Linked DNA regions of Homo sapiens: all the other regions are reported to be linked to region 2. Evidence: microRNA targets listed by miRTarBase, many of them from high-throughput screens and not tested one by one. Region 2 holds a microRNA gene; each other region holds the end of a gene's coding sequence.
The links. Region 2 holds the annotated microRNA hsa-miR-3663-3p (UGAGCACCACACAGGCCGGGCGC, at 1,714-1,736, opposite strand). A microRNA usually pairs through its seed, bases 2 to 8, with sites in the 3' UTR of a target mRNA and lowers its output. Matches are read on the target gene's strand: a 7mer-m8 pairs with bases 2 to 8, a 7mer-A1 pairs with bases 2 to 7 and ends in A, and an 8mer does both.

Region 1: miRTarBase lists PCBD2 as a target of hsa-miR-3663-3p. The part of its 3' UTR that is shown has no 7-base or 8-base seed match.
Region 3: the mRNA of DIRAS1 is a reported target of hsa-miR-3663-3p. Seed matches in the 3' UTR shown: 8mer at 3,856-3,863.

What each region holds. Positions count from the first base shown.
Region 1 is chr5:134,959,884-134,964,948 of GRCh38, forward strand. PCBD2 (pterin-4 alpha-carbinolamine dehydratase 2) reads left to right here. Exons shown (of 4, transcript NM_032151.5): 4 at 703-2,761. The coding sequence ends at 798. Among named protein-coding and RNA genes, the nearest start is that of CATSPER3, 5.5 kb to the right of the region's middle.
Region 2 is chr10:117,165,982-117,171,053 of GRCh38, forward strand. It overlaps MIR3663 (microRNA 3663), which reads right to left and starts at 1,793; the gene lies at 1,697-1,793. It overlaps MIR3663HG (MIR3663 host gene), which reads right to left and starts at 3,074. Exons shown (of 3, transcript NR_121651.1): 1 at 2,879-3,074. RefSeq lists an enhancer at 1-166.
Region 3 is chr19:2,712,529-2,717,593 of GRCh38, forward strand. DIRAS1 (DIRAS family GTPase 1) reads right to left here. Exons shown (of 2, transcript NM_145173.4): 2 at 2,039-5,065. The coding sequence ends at 4,682. Among named protein-coding and RNA genes, the nearest start is that of DIRAS1, 6.3 kb to the right of the region's middle.

The sequences.
Region 1 (5,065 bases), not on the chromosome of region 2:
TTTTTTTTTTTTTTTTTTTTTTTTTGAGTTGGAGTCTGGCTCTGTTGCCCAGGCTGGAGTGCAGTGCTGCGATCTCAGCTCACTGCAGCCTCCACCTCCCGGGTTCAAGCGATTCTGCTGCCTCAGCCTCCCGAGTAGCTGGGATCACAGGCGTGCAGGGTAACTTTTATATTTTTAGTAGATACGGGGTTTCACCATGTTGGCCAGGGTGGTCTCAAACTCCTGAACTCAGGTGATCCGGCCTCCCAAAGTGCTGAGATTACAGGTGTGAGCCACCATGCCCAGCCAAAATGTGCTTTTTAAACGTTGCTGCTAAGATATTACATTTGATAGCTTGGTTTTTCTCAGTGGCCTGAAAATAGTTGATGTAATTAAAGTAACGAGAGTTCAATTGGAACCTCAGTCTCTCTTTTTATTTAAAGAAACAAGATTTGAGATTCTGGCAGCTGCATTGCCTCTTCATGGAAGAGAACTTTTTATTTCAAGGTGGCTGTTGAGCCAGGCCTAATGTAGACTATGCCCCTGGAGTTCGCTGGGTTTTGGAAATGTTTTGCTTATTCATAATGTAGTATTTTCTAAATCATTTAATCCCCCTAATTCTCAAATATGAATGTTGAATAATAGACTGATTTCTGAACTGCCAAAGGAAAATAACCATGATTTGCTGCTCAGAGTTTTAAAAACTGCTTTTCTTTTTCTTAGGTCCAGATAACTCTCACCTCACATGACTGTGGTGAACTGACCAAAAAAGATGTGAAGCTGGCCAAGTTTATTGAAAAAGCAGCTGCTTCTGTGTGATTTCTTCCAAAATACATGTAAAATCTTGTACACATCTTAGCTGCAATGTATGTTGAAGGAAATTTATGTGAACAAATAGAGTTGTTCTTTTTCTCTTTTTTTTAAGACAGAGTGTTGCTCTGTCGCCCAGGCCAGAGTGCAGTGGTATGATCTCGGCTCACTGTAACCTCCGCCTCCCAGGTTCAGGTGATTCTCCTGCCTCAGCCTCCTGAGTAGCTGGGATTACAAGCACGTGTCACCACGCCTGGCTAATTTTTGTATTTTTAGTATAGACAGGGTTTTACCACGTTGGTCAGGCTGGTCTCGAACTCCTGACCTCGTGATCCGCCTGCCTCAGCCTCCCAAAGTGCTGGGATTACAGGCATGAGCCACCATGCCTGGCTGTTGAATTGTTCTTAAGGCATCATATCTAGAAGCAAAGAAAAAAGAAAAATAACAATTTAAGTTGTGTAAATTGTTTGCCTTTATATATTACATTTGGTAAAATCAGTGCTTAAATACGCAATGATTTAAACTGGAACCTGAGGTATTTTTCATGCTATCTAATCATATACCTAAGATAAACCAACCCAGTTACTTATATTAATAATATTCAGAAAGAGAAGTGGCTTTTTTTTTTTTTTGAGACGGAGTCTTGCTCTGTCACCAGGCTGGAGTGCAGTGGCGGGATCTCGGCTCACTGCAACCTCTGCCTCCCAGGTTCAAATGATTCTCCTGCCACAGCCTCCCGAGTAGCTGGGACTATAGGCACGTGCCACTGCGCCTAGCTAATTTTTGTATTTTTAGTAGAGATGGGGTTTCATTATGTTGGCCAGGATGGTCTCGATCTACTGACCTCGTGATCCACCTGCCTCCACCTCCGAAAGTGTTGGGATCACAGGCATGAGCCACCGCGCTTGGCCAGAAGTGGCATTCTTAAATTCAAGAAATTGGGATGGGGAGTATTCACACATTTTATAACCCAGAAATTCAAGCAATTCTGGTGACTACAAATGCATTGTTTTGGAGAATAGTTGTAAGGTGGAAAAAGAATTAGGAACTCGACAGATAGTGAGTTTTAACTTTAAATAACAATTCTTCTTTTGTTTTGTTTTGTTTGAGACGGGGTCTCGCTCTGCTGCCCAGGCTGGAGTGCAGTGGCAGGATCACGGTTTATTGCAGCCTTAACCTCCTGGGCTCAAGCAGTTCTCCCTCCTCAGCCTCCAGAGTAGCTGGGACTATAGGCAAGTGCCACCACGCCTGACTAATTTTTAAATTTTTTGTAGAGATGGGGTCTCCCATCTTGCCCAGGCTGGCCTTGAACTCTTGGGCTCAAGCAAGCCTCCCACCTCTGCCTCCCAAAGTCCAAGGATTACAGGTGTGAGCCATTGCCCCCAGCCAGTATAACAGTTTGTGTGTGTGTGTGTGTGTGTGTGTGTGTGTGTGTTTGACACGGGGTCTCATTCTGTTGCCCAGGCAGTAGTGTAGTGGTGCGACCATGGCTCACTGTAGTCTTGACTTCTCAGGCTCAAGTGATCCTCTCACCTCAGCCTCCTGAGTAGCAGCGGTTACAGGCATGCATCACCACACCTGGCTTATTTTTAAAACTTTTTTGTGGAGACAGGGTCTTACTATGTTGCCATGGCTGGTCTAGAACTTCTGGGCTCGAGTAATCCTCCTGCCTTGGCCTCTCAAAATGTTGGGATTACAGGTGTGAGCCACTGTGTCATAACAATTATTTTAAAATTTTTATTTATTTATTTTTAATAATTATACAAGATGGAGTCTCACTATGTTGCCCAGGCTGGTCTTGAATGCCTGGGCTCAAATGATCTTCCTGCCTTGACCCCCCAAAGTGCTGGGATTACAGGCGTGAGCCACTGCGCCTGGCCTATAACAATTCTTATGAAGCTAAAGTTGATTTGGATTTTAGCTGCCGTTACTACTTATATAATTAATTAGATTAAACAAGTCACAAAAATTGGATGAGCTATCTTGGTGTGTTTTCTTTACTTTTCTCTTTCAACAGAGAGTTGAAGGAGAGGACAAGTGTCTTGTCTGTGGCTTCCAGGAATGTGTGGCAATATAAGATTTACTGTTACAGCAGCCAACTCACCAAGTCATTATTTGACTTACTGAGTTAAGGAGGAACTAAGGGTCATTTTCCCCCCATCATTTGCATGTTTTGACTCCTGAACTGAGGGTCTACGGCCACTGAAGCTAGAAGCTAGAAGGGTGTTAATCAGTAGTGAGCTCTACTTACTCCATGTGTCACTGACAGATGTAAAAAGGAATATCAAGTAATCTATTATTTAAAAATTGTAATAAGAGTGTTTTTTGAAGGAATTCAGGAATGTACTACTAACGAGATTATGATGCAGGTATATCCATCCATGAAGCATTTGTTAGTCCCTTGAAGCATCATGGTAGTGGAATTTAACATGGATCATCTTTGTAAACCCACCTCTCTTTAGGGGCCAGAGAAATCACTGTTTGTTACAACAAGCAAACCTTTCCCTCTCCATGTCACCCTTGCCCCAAACCTGAGAAACATATGGGAACATGGCACAGAGGCTGAGCTCTCTGAAGCCAGTTCCTGGCTGGTTTTGCTGGCCAGGGAGAGGCAGGTGTGGTCAGTTGCCCTGTGGACATGTGGTGTGCAGGGAGAGAAGAGGGAAAAGAGCCACTCAGGCTCTCTGGCTGCCAGGGGATCCAGACTCTTAGCACTAGAACTTCTGTTTCTTAGAATTCTTCCCAAGGAAAAGACAAAACTGTGTTTTTATAAGCTGGTTTCCTATAGTGTAGATTTGGGACTTTTATACATTTTATTACCAAATATTTTTAGTTAAGTGCTTCAATTTTCAACATTAATTCTTTAAAATTTTCTTTTGAGAATCATCACCTGGATTTACATGAATTTTTTAAGCATGAAAAAATTTAAACATATTCAAAAGTACATGAATAGTACATTGAAGCCTTATATACATATCACCCAGATATAAAAATTACCAAGATTTTGTCCCAGTTGCTTCATTTTCCCTGTTTCCTTCTTTGCTAAAGTATTTAAAAGCAAATCCCAGATAGCTTATCATTTCACCCCTATATCCTTCAGTAAGTTTCTATGGAAAATATGGCCATTTTCTTGTATAAACCACAGTACCTCTGTTTTTTTTTTTTGAGATAGAGTCTCACACTGTCGCCCAGGCTGGAGTGCAATGGCGTGATCTTGGCTCACTGCAACCTCTGCCTCCCAGGTTCAGGCGATTCTCCTGCCTCAGCCCCCCGGGTAGCTGGGATTACAGGTGTGCGCCACCATGCCCAGCTAATTTTTTTTTGTATCTTCAGTAGAGATGGGGTTTCACCATGTTGGCCAGGCTGGTCTCGAGCTCCTGACCTCGTGATCGCCCGCTTAGGCCTCCCAAAGTGCTGGGATTATAGGCATAAGCCACAGCGCCCGGCCCACAGTACCATTTTTATACCTAACAAAGTGATTCCTTGGTACACTTAATACCTAGGCAAAATCAAATTGTCCTGAAGGTCATGAATGTCCTTGGACAGTAATCTGGTTCTAATCGAGGATCTATATGAAGCCCACCAATCGCATCTGGTTGTTGTGTCTCTTTAGTCTGTCAGTCTGGAGCAAGCTCCCCTCCCTTCCTCAGTTCCCCATGTTATTTATTTATTGTAAAAACTGGGTCAGTTGTGCTGTAGAATATTCTGCTTTCTGGATTTGTTTGTTTCTTCCTGTGGTGTCATTTAACTTGTTTTACTATACCCTAAACGGAACCCTTTTCCTCTGTTTTCAGCAGAAGTCTGAGAGGCTAAACTTGATGGCTGTGTTAACATATGTCACGTGTAGCACAGTGGAGAAAGCAGGATATGGCTCATAATGACAGTGGTGAAGACCTGCGAATGAAGTTGCTAGTTATCACCTACATTAGGGTTTGACATAGGTCTATGTTATGGGTCGCTGCATCTGCTGGAACTCACAGACTTTACTATAGAGAATCAAAGATCCCGTATCCGAAGTCTATGGAAATGCTCATGGTGGTAAATTCCAACAGAATGAAACACCAAACTTGCTTAAAGTAACTCACGTTTCAATTTGAAAGAGATATTGTCAAAATTGGAGGCCCCCAGGTTCCTGTCTGTTCCAAATCTTTGCATGATGACAGTGGTTTCTCTGATGTGGTAAGCTTTGGCTTTCTTCTGTTTTCTTTCTAAAAGATCACTGGAGTAGAGAGGAGTTAAACAGACATGACCTTTGACCTCTTGCATGACCTCCACA
Region 2 (5,072 bases):
CCCTCCGCAGCTGCAAGGCTCCTCCCTGGGCTGCGCGGGACAGATTTTTTCTCCTTTCCTGGCTACACGCCTAACAGAGAAGCTATCCCGAGGGACCTCAAGAAGTCCCCCCAAGCCGTACTCAAAAGCCTTTCTCCCTCCTCCTCAAGCGCTCACTTCCCCAAAGAGGACCCGGACCCCTGACTGCCTGAGCCAGGTCCCCAGCATGGTCCGCAACCCTTCTCGACTCCGGCATCCACCTCCAGGCTGACGTCTACCCGGGAGGGGGCTGGGGACCCAAGGAGACTTCGACTACAGGCCCAGGCGAACGGAAGGAAGAGGCTTGCGTTCAGAGAGACACGTTTGGAGCTGGGACTGTTCATTCTTTAAGGAACACCAGCTTCCAGGGCATCTTTCGTTGGCACCTTGGCTTTCCAGAGAAGAAAGGAAGTGGGTATCAGGGCCAGCCCCTCCTCGCACCCCAGGCTGGAGAGGTGCCGAGGTGCTTAGTCACTCAGTCCAAGGGCACCTGAGAGATGGGGGCAAACTTGGCAGGAGCTTGAGCACGGAGGCGTGATCCGCGGGGGGCGCAGGCAGGGCGGGGCCCAGAGCCCCCTTCCGCCAGCCCAGCCTGCCCCTTCCAACCCAACTTGTCTGGCACTGGCTTCTACGGGTGCCGAGAAGACTGCTGTCGTGGGCACAGGGTCCTCGACCCCAGGACGTGCGTGGCCTTTCCCACCCCAACCGGATGGTTTGTCCCAGGCTTTGAGACTGAGCTTGATAGAGAGGTAGGAAGGAAGCGGCGCCAGCTCCGGAGCCAGAGTGGGTTGGAGTCCCAGCTTGGCCACCCTCTAGCTGTGTGACCTTGAGTGAGTTACTTCGCCTCTCTGAGCACCAGTTTCTTTGTTTTTTTTTTTTTCAGGAATGGTGTGAGGATTGAGGTAATGTCCTTAGGATGCCCACATGTGTTCAGTCAAGGTCGGTCGTGATGGTTGCCGGCGTCCGCTGCAGGAAAGGCCCCCAGGAATCAGCTTGTAGGGTGGGCGCCAGCCGGTACTGCACAGGGGCATCGCGGCCTCCGGTTTTAGAAGGGGCAGAAACAGCGCAGTGTCCTCAGCCCTGAGGGCTGAGTGTTGGAGGTCCCGACGCTCCTGGGTTCTCTTCTGCCCGGGTGCAGACTACAGCAGGTGCGCAGGGCTTCGCACACCTCTGCTGTGGGAAGTGAGTCATCTTCGCTTATGATTGCATCTGGCCAGGCCAGCTACGAGAACACTGGGCCTCACAGCTGCCACGTATCCAGCCTTAACCTGTGCCAGGCACTGTGCTAAGAGCTATGCACCCACAATCCCACTTCTTCACAACAGCCTCGACCGAAGTAGATGTTTAAGTTTTTAAATTTCCATTTTACAGAGCAGGAAACAGACTCAGAGAGGTTAACTTCCCCCAAGATCACACAGCTGGTAAGTTGGAGAGCGGGGACTTGAACTGAATCTTCCTTGGAGGCCAAGCTCTGAACCACTAAGTTGGGTGGCATTAGAGAGCCAAGCTCTCGCCCTTCGGTTTCCATTCACGCTACCCTCTCTGAGCCGCAATTCTCTCTCCTGCGTTGGCACTGGCAGAAGTTGAGACACGCTCCCAGGAATCGCGGGCCGTGGCGCGTACTTCCACGCACCCCAGCTAGTTCCAGAGACTCAGCTTGTTCTGAGATCCTCTTGTCGAGCCCCCTTGGTCCCGGCGCCCGGCCTGTGTGGTGCTCAGATCAGACTTATCCACCCGAGCACCACGCAGACCAGCGCCTGGACCAAGGTCCCGGGAAGGAAGCCCTCCTCCCCTTCTCCTGTGGCTTAGCTCAGCGATCAGGGAGGAGCCAGTTAAGAAGTCACAGTCGAAGCCATGACTGCTGTGTCCCGGGGAGGCAGTGGAAGGCGAGGAGCACGGAGCGGGGATACCGCCGGACAACCCCTCCCCGCCGCCCCGTCGGCGTCCTCGCTGCGCAGGGGCTCCCTTGCTGCCCCAATCTAAAAGGAAGCCGTCGCGGCCCAGGGCACGGTAACTAAAAGGCCGTCGGGGAGGGAGACGGGAATGAGTGGGCTTGGACTTGAGGTTTCCGAGCCAGCTGCTCCCTAGAGCCGTTCCTGAGCTCGTCAGCCAGCACGTATTTAATGAATGGCCACTGGGTGCTAGGCCTTGCACGCAACCCTTTCGTCCTCCCCCGGGGCTGAGCCGAGGGTGACCCAACACTAGTCGGAACGAGCCTGGAGACATGGCGCCGGGGCTGCGCTCTGCAGGCCTGGCCTGGTCGCTCTCCACGCACCCCTCTCTCTGTAGCTGCCGCCCCGCCCGGCTCTGCCTGTGGGCGCCCCCTGGCGGCAGGAAGCCGAGCGCGCACCACGCCCTCGGGGCTCCATCCCCACTCACCCCGGCGCCTCTAGCCGCTCCACCCGCACCCCCAGTTCGCGCTGCGGCGGCCAGCCTCTTCCCCGACGGCCGACCGAATGTCCCTCAGAGCTTTCCGTGACCGGCCAGGGCGCGTGGCTGTCCGGAGCCCCTCCACGTTCCCCAGCAGCAGGCCCGGCTCTCTCTGATCAGCGAGCGCGGATGCCGGTCTCCTCCCTCCCTCTGCCGGGCTCCAGCCCGACGCCAGGCCGCTGGGGGCAAGCGCTGTGCTTTGGAAGAGGAGAAAAGCCCCAAATAAACAAAAACCCAAAGCCCATTCAAGTTCAGGGGTGGAGAACTGTTGGCATCTGAATTTTAAAAAGATCGCCGGGACTCCCAACCACCACCAAACACCCTCTTGTCCACCCCCCCCCGCCCCCGACACCATCCCACCCCACACACCCCACGCCCGCGTCCCGTGAACCGAACCGCCAATGCGCCGCAACCTTCTCGGCAGTCACACCTGTGTCCCCGATGCCATCTGCCCACGTCTGTGTGTGAAGCAAACCCCGCTGGCAGACGGGATGGAGAGAGATGGCTCCTCCAAACCAGAATTAGGAGGAAAACCCCGCTGAGGGCGTTTCAAAAACCCAACAGGCGAGCGGGGAAACCTGCATTGTCAGACCTGCTGGGCCCTGAGTTCTAGCCCCATGCACCGCGCCGAGCTAATTCTCCCGGCGACTCTCTGAGGGGTTATTACCACGTAATAATTGATGAGGACACTAAGGGCTAAGAGGAGTCAATTAACTTGTCCCTAGTTACAGAGTTGGAAGTCAGGGATGGATCTTAACTGGTGGGGCTGTTCCGAGGGCCTGTGAGAGACTGGGTTTCAGCCCAGAGCCCAACACAGCGCCGGTAGAGAAAGTATCGGGTACATTTTTGCCTGCTAATCCGGCGGTAGGAAGTCAATTACATCTTTGATGACTCAGATTTTTGAAACAGCCCCATACAACTTCCAATTACGGGGGCAAATATAATTGTGAAAGTCTATGGGATTTGGAGATGAAGGAGTAGGCCATCAAAACATAACCCAGAACTTAACTTGTTTTGGAAAAAAACATTTTATGGAAAATTTCCAACATATAGGAAAGAAAAGAGAATATTATAGTGAACTCCCATGCACCTGTCCCCAACCTCCAAATAACGAAGGCAAATCTATTTTATGGTCAATCTATTTCCTCCCCTCCTTCCCACGGACTCTGCCTCCCCAGCTGTCAAAACCTACACACACACTGCTTCCCCTATTCACACAGATTATTTGGAAGTAAAACCTGGACCTTGCCACACTTAATCTGCAAGCATTTCAGCATGTACTGTCAAGAGATGACCACATTACCAAAACTACAATAGCATCAACACAACCACAATACCAAGATATACCCACAAACTTCACATTCCTAAACACCCTGGAGTATCCAGCTGGCTGAAGCTTTATTTTAACCACAATTCCTGGCTAGAGCTTGGTTTTCACTGAGTTTCAGCTCTAGGGCCAGAATGACCTGGGTTTGGATCTTGATTTTTTTTTTTCTTTTCACTTATTAGCTGAATGACTCGGGGGCATGACTTACCTTCTCTCTGAGTGTCAGTTTAGTGCAATCTCACATGGTTGTTACAAAGATAAAAAAACAAAACAATGCATGTAAAGAGTTTGGCATAAGCCAGGGAATAGTATCTGTTATTTCTCCTAAAGCTGGACTTCGGTGAGATTTTAGCTAACGAAGGCTTGAAAATTAGGTTTGAGTTGGGGCATCAGAAGTTTTCACGTTGCATGGAGGGTAAGACTAGAGCCAGGGATGCACCACCACACCCAGTGATCATTCATGAGTTCACCCCTCCCAGGATTAACAACTGAACTCTCAGTGATGTCTTATCTTATAAGGCTCTAGTCTTATCCTCCATGCAATGTGAAACCTTTTCAGGTTCTCCAAGGATCCTCCTAGGTCCGACAGTCATCGTGGGCTTTTCTTGGGGGCAGTGCTGGTCTTTCTCCCCTGTATTCCTGCCTCTAGCATGCGGCTGGGCACACGGGGTCAGTGCTGTCTGCTGAAAGAATGGTTGATGACATCATCCCATCACGTGGCCTTTGCATAGCCAATTCCTTCTGCCTGAGACATTTATGCCTTTTCCCTTAGCTTAATTAACCCTCTCTGAATGGGTCAAATTCCCCTGGCATATGCTCTCAGAGGACCTCAGTGCACTTTCTCTTCAGAGGGTTTATCACTGGTTAAAACGTTAGATTTATTTGTTACTTATTTGTGTGATTACCAGATAGTCTTTCTTCTGTTCTAAACTTCATGAGGGCAGGAATCATGGCTGTTTTCTCATCATTGTATCTTTAGCACTTAATGCAATGGCTAATTGTTGAATGCAAGTGGTTTTTATGGTAGGGGGGAGTAGCTAGATTCAGAAACTGGTTTAACCCTAACCCTCACCCTAATCAGCAGTCATAGTAGCCAATTCACAATGCACTATTTCAATATGTTGTATAGGAAATTAATCTCCAGGCAAACTATTGCGCTACCAGGCAAACTATTCTGGAGGTAATACAATAGAAAGATCTAGTTAAGATACTTGAATCATACAGATTGTTGAATAAATTTTAAACACACAATGAGAAGCAAGAGGAAAGAGATGGGGTAGGTTAACACATATACCAC
Region 3 (5,065 bases), not on the chromosome of region 2:
CTCAGCTCACTGCAAGCTCCGCCTCCCGGGTTCAAGTGATCCTCCTGCCTCAGCCTCCCTAGTAGTTGGGATTACAGACTCCCGCCACCACGCCCAGCTAATTTTTTGTATTTTTAGTAGAGACAGGGTTTTGCCATGTGAGCCAGGCTGGTCTCAAACTTCTGGTCTCAGGTAATATGCCCTTCTCGGCCTCCCAAAGTGCTGGGACTACAGGCATGAGCCACCGTGCCCGGCCTGGGTATTTCTTTATAGCATTCCAAGAATGGACTAATACAGTCTCCTCTGCCCCAACGCCACTGGGCCTGCAAGGAAATTGTCCACGTTCACAGAAAGTCCAGCTGGGAGGATGTCCCCAGCTAATGTGCACAGAGTGAATCTGGAAACCAACACCCTAGAAAAAAGCCACATAAAGACATCTCCAAGCAGAGTCCCAGACGGGTCCTGCCTTGCCTCCCCTGCTGCATGTCCTCAACCCACTCCCTCCACCTCCCCACCACCATCCCATCCTTCGCTTCCTACACAGGTCCCCTCCTCCACTCTTCACCCCATCCCTCACTTTCTACACCCACCACCTCCTCCACCCTTCCTCCCATCCCTCACTTCCTCCACCCATCACCTCCTCCATCCTTCATCCCATCCCTCACTTCCTACACCCATCGCCTCCTCCACCCTTCACCCCATACCTCACTTCCTACACCCATCACCTCCTCCACCCTTCACCCCATACCTCACTTCCTACACCCACCACCTCCTCCACCCTTCATCCCATTCCTCACTTCCTACACCCACCACCTCCTCCACCCTTCATCCCATCCCTCACTTCCTACACCCATCACCTCCTCCACCCTTCATCCCATCCGTCACTGTCTACACCGATCACCTCCTCCACCCTTCATCCCATCCCTCACTTCCTACACCCACCACCTCCTCCACCCTTAATGCCATCTCTCACTTCCTACACCCATCACCTCCTCCACCCTTCATCCCATCCATCACTGTCTACACCCATCACCTCCTCCACCCTTCATCCCATCCCTCACTTCCTCCACGCACCACCTCCTCCACCCTTCATCCCATCCCTCACTTCCTACACCCGTCACCTCCTCCACCCTTCATCCCATTCCTCACTTCCTACACCCACCACCTCCTCCACCCTTCATCCCATCCCTCACTTCCTACACCCGTCACCTCCTCCACCCTTCATCCCATCCCTCACTTCCTACACCCACCACCTCCTCCACCCTTCATCCCATCCCTCACTTCCTACACCCGTCACCTCCTCCACCCTTCATCCCATCCCTCACTTCCTACACCCACCACCTCCTCCACCCTTCATCCCATCCCTCACTTCCTACACCCGTCACCTCCTCCACCCTTCATCCCATTCCTCACTTCCTACACCCACCACCTCCTCCACCCTTCATCCCATTCCTCACTTCCTACACCCACCACCTCCTCCACCCTTCATCCCATCCCTCACTTCCTACACCCATCACCTCCTCCACCCTTCATCCCATCCCTCACTTCCTCCACCCACCACCTCCTCCACCCTTCACCCCATCCCTCACTTCCTACACCCATCACCTCCTCCACCCTTCACACCATCCCTCACTTCCTACACCCACCACTTCCTCCACCCTTCATCCCATCCCTCACTTCCTACACCCACCACCTCCTCCACCCTTCACCCCATCCCTCACTTCCTACACCCGTCACCTCCTCCACCCTTCATCCCATCCCTCACTTCCTACACCCACCACCTTCTCAACCCTTCACCCCATCCCTCACTTCCTCCACCCACCACCTCCTCCACCCTTCATCCCATCCCTCACTTCCTACACCCATCACCTCCTCCACCCTTCATCCCATCCCTCACTTCCTACACCCATCACCTCCTCCACCCTTCATCCCATCCCTCACTTCCTACACCCATCACCTCCTTCACCCTTCACCCCATCCTGCACCTCCCCACCCTTCTTGATCCTTTACAGGCGGTGAGCTGACACCCCACGCCCACCACAGAGACAGGGCGCCATGCTGGTGGGGAATGCAGGATCCACTTTTTTATTGCAGGAAGACTATGTCTAGAGCGAAGGCTACACAGACCCCACGATGGGGGAGTGGGGGCACCCACATGCGGGGGGAGAGGGGGCAGGGGCGGAGTCACAGCAAGCATGGCCTGGCACAGTCCCCAGCACCAGGGATGCCCAGGCAGGATGGGCCAGCAGCCAGGACAGGCTCGGGTCCCCTCCTATTGCAGATGCCCTCTCTCCCCAGGGTCGGGCAGGGCCTGAGGTGGGAGAGGCCTGGAGGTGGGCAGGGCCCCAAGGAGATTGTGCTATCAGGGTGTGTCCCTGAGAAAGGGCCGCAGACCCCTGCCCAGCCTCACTCTCTCCGGCACCTTCAGAACCCAGAAGCTACTGCCAGGACAGGAGAGGAGGCAACATCAGCTGCTGGTGGGCCCTGGGCCAGCCCAAGTTTTGGGGGGACCCAGCTCTGCTCAGACACAATGCCAGCTCTTCTGGGAGCCCGGTCCACGTGCTGGATAGCAACACACACGCACGTGTGCACACTCCCTCTCTCTGAGTGTGTCCAATAAACATTTGTTGAGTAAACACTCACACGAACACAGAGGAAAACAAACATGCTTGTACCAAATCAGACACGAGCAATCTGTTACCTACATAGTCCCACCTGGCCACATGACTACAGAGACACATGTGTGCAATCTCTCTCTCTCTCTCACTGCACAAAAGGGCGTGCGCACACACACACGTTGCTTCCTCACACCCAATAAGACCAAAACCTCCATCTCACCTTCCCTCACTAACTTAGCTGCCATGCTCCGAGCCCCGCTGTGGAGAGACCCACATGGTACAGAACAAAGGGCAGCTTCCAGCCAACAGCCAGCGAGGAACTGAGGCCTTCAGTCTTGCAACAGCAAGGAACTGAATGCTGCAACAACCACATGAGCTTCTAAGAAGCAAATCCTTCCCCGATCAGGCCTTCAGATGAGACCTCTGCCTGGCGAATGCTTTGATTGCAGCCTCCTGAGATCCCAAGTAGAGGACCCAGCCAACCTGCACCCAGGCTCTTGACCCACAGAATCTATGAGATAATAAGCATGTGTTGTTTCTGGTTGCTACATTTGTGGTCATTTGTTACACAGCAGTAGCTGACTGATACAGATTTGGAACCGAAAGTCACATTGCTAGAGTCATGTTGCTATAGAGTGGAACACAGATCGTGTCCCTCAATCAGGACAAACATATTTACAGATAAATGCTCTCAGATAAACCATATCACCCACTCCCCAAAATATAGTCATGCTCATACAGGCACAAAGATTCACACAGACACCTCACACATATCCAGTCTTGCTGACAACCACACACAGGTATCTACAACTACCCACCTCTCTGTATACCCTACACCACTATTACACACACAGACTGCCACAAAAACATATCATCCCAGACAGACACACACAGGTATACACGCAGATGCACTTAGATACAAGTCACCCATCCGCGCACCCCAGGTTGCACAAATACACCATTCCATAGCCACTTCCGTGTATGTTGGACACAACCCTGTGGGGTCACACGAGTGTGGTGTCACTCAGACTCTCTCAAAAAACACCCAGAACCTCATGGCTGCAGGTACACTCGACTCCAGGACGCCACCTTCCCGGGCAGGCCCTGCTCTCTGGGGCACAGGTGGTGGGGAGGAAGTGGGTGGGGCAGACCTCTGTCCGGGGCGCCCTCGGATCCTGCTGGTGCTGGCTCCCATCGGCTGTCCCCCCACGGGGGTGTAATTGATGTATCTCTGGCCGGGGCCCCGGGTACCCCCTCCTGAGCACCCCAGGTCCCCACCCGCCATGCGTTGCTAACGTCTCTGTCTTGGTGGAAGAGGCGGGTCCCGGGTGGGCGGTGTCCGGGAAGCCCCTCCACGCCCATGGTGCCTCTCCAGCGGGGCAGTTGTGCTGTGGATGTGGCTGGTCCCGGGGGTGGGATTCGGGGCTGGCAGGGGCACTGCTGCAGGCCCTGTGGTTATTGCCTGGTGGCCTGAGGCCCATCCCACGGGCCCCACACCCCACTGTGAAGACAGAGGAGAGAGGTGCGTCTGGAACCGGAGGAGTGGGCACAGATCAGAGGTCACGACGGGCCGGGTGGGCTTGGGTGTATGTTAACACCAAATAGGAGAAAAAAGAAAAAAATATCTGAGGCCGATGTGCATTTTCAACTCCCCCCTCCCCCAGAAGGTCACAGTGATCAAATGTGAGGGACAGGACGCGCAGGTCTGGCTGGGGACACCCCAGGGAAAGAGATGGAAACGGGGAAACGCAGCCTCCTCTGGTCCTGGTGGGAACAAGCAGCTCCTCTTGCCAGCTCCCCATCCTGTTTTCCCATCTGCAGGACAAGGGGGCCACCTCCGGCTCTTGGTTTTGGAGGGTACAGACAGAACAGGAGGGTGGAGAGAGAGCAGGGGAGGAAGAAAAGCCCCAGCCCTGCCTCGGGGTGGGCAGGGGCAGCGGAGGGGGGGGCGGTGGCCTCGGTTTCCCCAGCCGAGGTGTCGGAGGAAGGATGAGAGAAGAGGAGGAGGCCGAGGAGGGTGTCGGTGTTGGGGGAGGCAGCGGGGGTCAGTGGGGGTGGGCGGCGGGCAGGCGGGCGTTCCGGGCTCACATGAGGGTGCATTTGCCCTTGACGCGGTCTGTCCTCTTCTGCTTCCCGGAGCGCTTGCCGTCGATGTTGAGGCTCATGTTCCGGCGCGTCTCCAGCGTCAGCAGCTCCTGGAAGAGCTCCTTGACGTTGTAGTTCATCTTGGCCGAGGTCTCCATGAAAGCGCACTTCCACTCCTGGGCCACCGCCTGCGCCTCGCGCGTGTCCACCTCCCGCTGCGTCTCATCGCACTTGTTGCCCACGAGCATCACGGGGATGTCCTCCACGCTGCCCTTGATCTGCACGATGAGCTTGTAGATGGGCCCCAGCTCCTCCAGCGACTGCTTGCTGGTGACGGAGAACACCAGGATGAAGGCGTGGCCCTTGGAGATGGACAGGCGCTG